Linked DNA regions of Homo sapiens. The protein of the gene in region 1 purifies or fractionates together with the protein of each later gene. This does not show direct contact. Each region holds a gene or a part of one and is shown on either strand. Other genes may lie near its edges.

Region 1 (4,019 bases):
GCCCGCCTACGAGTCGCTGCCCGGCTGCCTTGGGTTTTCCTTGTGAATCAGCACTTGCTGCATGTGACCTCGCCAAGCAGGGGTTTCTGTCAACCCGCCCTCTAGGGATAAGAGGTCATGGACTTTTCCCTTTGGCTTTCATGTTGTTTGGAGTCCTCAAAATTTTCTCCAGGGCTCTGAGCTCTGGCCAAAAACCAGCTGGCAAGTCAGTTCCTTACTAGGTCCAGTGTTGAGGACCATGTTAGCGTCTGTGCCACGGGGCATGACTGGCTATGCACAGTCCTTTCCACCCAAACCGTGACTTGTGTGAAGAGCTCTCAGTTGGGGAATTTGGGGAGTTGTGAGACCTCATCCTAGGTCAAGTGTGATTGGGAGACCAAGGTTTCCAGTGAGAGCTGTGGTGTTTTCTTTCTTTTTTTTAATAATACTGTAAGTTCTATGTGGTGTTTTCATAGTCACAAAAATAAAGCAGGGCCATGTGTCAAGAGTCTCATGGTGGGGCTTCTTTATTTATGTATTTATTTTTCTAAATGGAGTCCCATTCTGTTGCCCAGGCTGGAGTGCAGTGTCTCAATCTTGGCTCACTGCAATCTCCGCCTACCAAGATCAAGCGATTCTCCTGTCTCAGCCTCCCAACTACCTGGGATTACAGGTATGCGCCATCACACCTGGCTACTTTTTTTGTATTTCTAGTAGAGACAGGGTTTCGCCATGTTGGCCAGGATGGTCTTAATCTCCTGACCTCATGATCCACCCGCTTTGGCCTCCAAAAGTGCTGGGATTACGGGCGTGAGCCACCGCGCCTGACCCTTGGGACTTCTTTACGTGTGTCCTGCTAGCTGCAGCATGTCCTCTTCTCCTCCAAGTAAAAGATGTACAGGGTCCCTGTCTGTGGGGTCTCAGTAAGTTGTAAGTTTCTTCATCTGCTTTCAGAACAGTGACCTACGTAGGCCACTCCTCCCATCCGGGCGTCCACCTTCAAGGTTGGCGTCTGCTGTATGATTCCATGGCTGGGCACTGTTGCCACTTCCTTCGGAGATGAGGACTGCTTTCCTCTGGCCACTGGTCAGTGGTCTCAGCAGCAGGAAATAGTAAAATAGTAAATGACAGGTCAGGGTGCTGCCAAGAGAGTGCAGGGGCAGGGATGGGGTGGGTCCCATCCCAGATGAGCCAGATGGTGATGCCATCTCTTCCTGCAGAGACTGAGGGGACATTCAGAGACGGGGTATGTTTGATGCCCTGTCAGCATCTGAGGCATCAGCCCTGGTTAAGCTGCGTTTAGCCTTCTCTCCTATGATACTTTGACACTCAGCCTTGCTCCCAGGAGGTAGGATAGTGTTTCCATTACGGAATCAAAGATGGGAACCTGGCTTCCTGGCATGATCCCAGCGGTGCTGGCAGTCTTTGCTGACTGACTTGGTGATGTGGTTTGGCTTTGTGTCCCCACCCAAAGCTCATCTGAGTCGCGATTCCCAGTGTTGGAGGAGGGGCCTGGTGGGAGGTGATCTGGTCATGGGGGCAGATTCCCCCTTGCTGTTGTGGTGATAGTGAGTGAGTTCTCAGATCTGATGGTTTAAAAGTGTGTGTGGCACTTTCCCCTTTGCCCTCTCGCTTGCTCTCTCTCTCTCTCCGCCCCCCCCACTGCTTCACCCATACTGTGCTTGCTTCCCATTTGCCTTCTGCCATGACTGTAAGTTTCCTGAGGCCTCTCAGTGGTGCTTCCTGGACAGCCTGCAGAACTGTGAGTCAGTTAAACCCAGGCCAGGTGCGGTGGCTTACACCTGTAATACCAGCACTTTGGGAGGCTGAGGAGGGCAGATCACTTGAGGTCAGGAGTTCTAGACCAGCCTGGCCAACATGGTGAAACTCCGTCTCTACTAAAATACAAAAATTAGCTGGATGTGGTGGCGTATGCTTGTAGTCCCAGCTACTCGGGGGGCTGGGGCAAGAGAATCACTTGAACTCGGGAGGCGGAGATTGTAGTGAGCCGAGATTGTGCCATTGCACTCCAGCCTGGGCGACAGAGTGAGACTCCATCTCAGAAAAACAAACAAACCTATTTTCTTCATAAATTACCCAGTCTTGCTTGGGTAGTTCTTTTTTTTTTTTTCTTGAGATGGAGTTTCGCTCTGTTGCCCAGGCTGGAGTGTAGTGGCGCGATTTCAGCTCACTGCAACCTCTGCCTCCCGGGTTCAAGCGATTCTCCTGCCTCAGCCTCCCGAGTAGCTGGGATTACGTACATGCACCACTATGCCCAACTAATTTTGTATTTTTAGTAGAGACGGGGTTTCACCATGTTGATCAGGCTGGTCTCAAACTCCTGGCCTCAGATGATCCACCCGCCTCGGCCTCCTAAAGTTCTGGGATTAAAGGTGTGAGCCCCTGTGCCCGGCCTGGGTAGTTCTTTAGAGCAGTGTGAGAATGGACTCACACATTAGGTTTAGAGTTAGGCTGCCTCAGACTCCAGCACATGTAAGTGCTGGTACTGGTTGAGGGCAGGGGCGTGTCCTGGCCTCGTTCGACCCCACACAATTTCCTCTCTTTGCAGGTGCAGCTCTGTCATTTCCACTCTGCTCTGCTGCACAGCAGGCAGAAGCCCTGGCCGTCCCCTGCTGTGTTCTTCAGGAGAAACGTCAGGGGCCTTCCTCCAAGGTAACGAGTCCTCCACGGGCATGCGCCTCTCACCCAGGCAGGCATGGATGGCGTCTGTGTGCATGCAGAGGTGGCAGTCGAGGGCCCAAGGCTGGACCTTCTCCTGTACCCACAACCAAGGCAGGATATGTTTGCTCCTCAGTGCGGTGCACTGGGACCAAAGACCCCCAGGGACCCATGGGACCGTGCTCAGGGGTGGGCACACCCTGATCACAGCATTTAGAGCAGACAGCTAGCAAATCGGGAAGGGTGCACATGGAGCGCCTGCTCTGAAGAGCAAACCGGGTCATTCAGAGCATGGAGGAGGGCGGGGTGACTATAGGTGGGAGTCACACAAGAGGAAGAGCAGCAAGAAGAGATGTGGAGGGATGGGTCTGAGCAGAAGGAAAGGCCAGACAATGTCCTGAGGCCAGCAAGTCCGGACCACAGTGCGCAGATGGACGGTGGCAAGGCAGGAAGGCCGTGGAGGGTAGATGTGGCCAGGCAGGGCAGGCAGGGTGAGCTGTCCAAGCGCCACTGGCTCAGTGAACCTGGCAGGGGTCTCCTTCTCCCGAGAGCTCTGCAGTAGGACAACCTGTGTCCCTGGGACAGATGCGGCCAGCTACAGAAACAGATGGGTGCTCAGGCGCCTGCGGCTGGGTGCAGAAACAGATGTGCACTCAGACACCTGCTGCACTCAGGATTATGGGCCGGGTGTAGAAACAGATGTGTGCTCAGGCACCTGCTGCACTAAGGATTATGGGCCGGGTGTAGAAACAGATGTGTGCTCAGGCACCTCCCGCAGTCAGAATTATGGGCCGGGTGTAGAAACAGATGTGTGCTCAGGCACCTCCCGCAGTCAGAATTATGGGCCAGGTGTAGAAACAGATGTGTGCTCAGGCACCTGCCGCAGTCAGGATTATGGGCCGGGTGTAGAAACAGATGTGTGCTCAGGCACCTGCTGCACTCAGGATTATGGGCTGGGTGTAGAAACAGATGTGTGCTCAGGCACCTGCTGCACTCAGGATTATGGGCTGGGTGTAGAAACAGATGTGTGCTCAGGCGCCTGCTGCACTCAGGATTATGGGCTGGGTGTAGAAACAGATGTGTGCTCAGGCGCCTGCTGCACTCAGGATTATGGGCTGGGTGTAGAAACAGATGTGTGCTCAGGCGCCTGCTGCACTCAGGATTATGGGCTGGGTGTAGAAACAGATGTGTGCTCAGGCACCTGCCGCACTAAGGATTATGGGCTGGGTGTAGAAACAGATGTGTGCTCAGGCACCTGCCCCACTCAGGATTATGGGCTGGGTGTAGAAGCAGATGTGTGCTCAGGCACCTGCCCCACTCAGGATTATGGGCTGGGTGTAGAAACAGATGTGTGCTCAGGC
Region 2 (2,581 bases), on another chromosome or scaffold:
CCTGCCCATAGCATGGAGGGAACTTCCACTGAGCCTCCTCTGTCCACTTCTGGCGCCTCTCACTAAGCCCTTTGCTCAGCCTCCCACAGGAGGAAAAGTTTATTGGGCGGGTCAGTGTCGACCTTTCTGCACCTGTCTGCTGGTGGGCTGGTACTGTGGCTGTGCTTGTGGGTATAGCTCTCCTTTTCTGCCCAGTCTTCCTGCTCCCTGTCCCCACAGAGAGCACCCTCAAGGCCAGCCCACTGCACATCCTCTGGCTCCAGCTCCTTGCCCGTGTGCCTGACTGGGAAAGGGCATTCCAGGGCCTTCCTGCAGATCTAGCCACACCTGGCTTTCCTGGCAGAACACCTGGGTGTGCAGCATGGGTTTTGTGTTCAGGGAATTACTCTTCGGATTTGACCTGGTAGTGTGGATCATGTGGATTATCAACATTTACGAAAGTATATTTACGAGAATATGGTGAGCAATAGCACCATCAATGAAAAGGCATTGAGAAGACATTTTTTTTTAAAACAAAGTTCACTTTATTACATTAATTTTACACACTAAAATAATATGAAATGCAGACTTGTTTAAATTCTCTTGCTGATTCTCTTGAAGACAATGTCACCCAATGTCATGGTCTGAAAGCCAGAAAAGAAATTATGAAGTGTTCATCTGATGTTGTATTGTAAAAAACAAAATTAAGCATAAAAAACAAAATTAAGCTTAAAAAACAGCACCAAATATGTTGGCATATGAAACAATTCAAAAATTCGTCTGGTTTCCTGTAGGACCGGAGGAAAGGTTGGCAATGTTTTCCAAAATCCTATGCCAAGTCTTTGTCACTTCTCCTCCTCACCTGGAAAGTCCTCCTGCCTTTGACTGAATTCTTTTCTACATCAATGACTGTTATAGCAAGACCATCCAAACCAGCCCAATCTAATTTCTCAAAATTTCATTGAGTACCTACTATGCACCAAATACATGTTGAGCACCAAGGATACATGTACATGGACACAACTAGGCACACAGCCTGGAAGGCAGTGGGTAGTGCATAATTGTCCTCCTATAGCTGTGAAGCATATAAAAACAGTGGATGCATCAGCTTTTGAGTTTTTAAGGATGTTTCCTCCACCCCTGCCAGTTCTCTTGAATAAGACTGCTGGAATGACATACCATGTCATCAGGGTGAAAAGGAGCCCCTCAGTTTCAGCAGCAATGCAATAGTTGCTGCTTGATGGGTTTGAGCCCTGGATTTAACATTTATTAGCTGATGACTTGGACAGGTCAACCTGTCTATTGAATCCCTCATCCAGCCTCCCTCGAAGGAGACAGGAGGATTAGGTGAGATGGAACCTATCAAAGGGCGTTGGCCAGGACTTACTGCAGGATAGCTCATCTCCTGCTCCCCTGCTCTCCTGGGAATGTGCTGGGGCGGAGGTGGAAACTGCACATTGGGTGGTTGATGCTCACACTCTCTCTAGTTTAAGAATTTTTCCATTTGAATAGAGTGATGACAGCGCCCTGAGGCAGTGTTCTGTTGTCTGTGACTCCCTAAAGCATATTCTGGGGGCAAAGAAGAGTCAGGGGGACATACCTGCAGGAGAAACACTGCACCATTCACCCCCAAATAGGGTACAGGATGTGGCTGGCAGCCAGGCACCAAGGCTGACTGCATAACTGGACTGTGCCAGGCTTGTAAGCTGCCATAATATGACCATGAATGGGATTCTCTTTATAAACGCTAAATGGGCAAAGGCATTTATGAAGCACCCTGGGCATGCAGGGCAGGTGGAGGCCTCTGTGGCTGGTTGGTTGCGCTGAGCAGAAAGGATTAGTGATAATGTGTGTAAACTGCCTGGGACATGATGGATCCTCAGTAAGTGCTGGCAGATACTGACCACAGGAAAGAAGTTTGGGGGTTGGAGGGTGGAGGGGTGGCATTAGGGTATGTGAGCCGCTCCCCATGCTTCACCTCCCCTCTCCCCTCAAGCACTGGGAGCCACACGCTCAGAGCACCACCAACTTACATTGGTGATTATGTCGCCGTTGAGTTCGGTCACAGACTTGATGTTTTTGAAAGTTGTCACCAGTTTATTGTCACCTTCCAACTGAACCACTGTCTGCAGGGAACAGAGAGGTGACCTGTGAGGAAGGGGTGGTGGGGGGCAAGAGCCTTGCTAATGAAGTTGCTTCCTTTGCACAGGTCTCAGCTCATAACAACCAAAATGCTCTGGTTCCTATGATCCCAAGCCTCTAGTTCTCTGGCTCCAAATAGAAGTGAGGTGCATTTAAGAACTAAATAAAATGTCACGACTTCTTTTGTCAGAACTTTAATTCATGGCATGTGATCTAGAAATGAGCATGGAACACCTAAGTGGCCCCAAATACAAATGCTAAAATCAAATCAAGTAAAATCTCAATTCTCCCAAGCTAATGGAGGGAGGTAGTGGCAAAATTCAAATATTGACCAGTAGAGAATACATATTTTGCTTTGGTATGTATTCTTCTTTTTTTTTTTTTTTTAATTGAGATGAGGTCTTGCTATGTTGCCCAGGCTGGTCTTGAACTCCTAGGCTCAAACAGTCCTTTCACTTCA

Evidence for each region.
Region 2: the proteins of ADCK5 (region 1) and FABP1 purify together in Homo sapiens (co-immunoprecipitation; one large-scale study listed by IntAct). This does not show direct contact.

The regions. Positions count from the first base shown.
Region 1 is NC_000008.11:144,376,839-144,380,857, forward strand, and holds part of ADCK5 (uncharacterized aarF domain-containing protein kinase 5), read left to right. Parts: intron 1-558; exon of another isoform or gene 559-652; intron 653-2,548; coding exon 2,549-2,652; intron 2,653-4,019. UniProt on the Homo sapiens protein: The function of this protein is not yet clear. It is not known if it has protein kinase activity and what type of substrate it would phosphorylate (Ser, Thr or Tyr).
Region 2 is NC_000002.12:88,122,482-88,125,062, forward strand, and holds the end of FABP1 (fatty acid-binding protein, liver), read right to left. Parts: intron 2,106-2,581; coding exon 2,013-2,105; intron 624-2,012; coding exon 573-623; 3' UTR 501-572; downstream 1-500.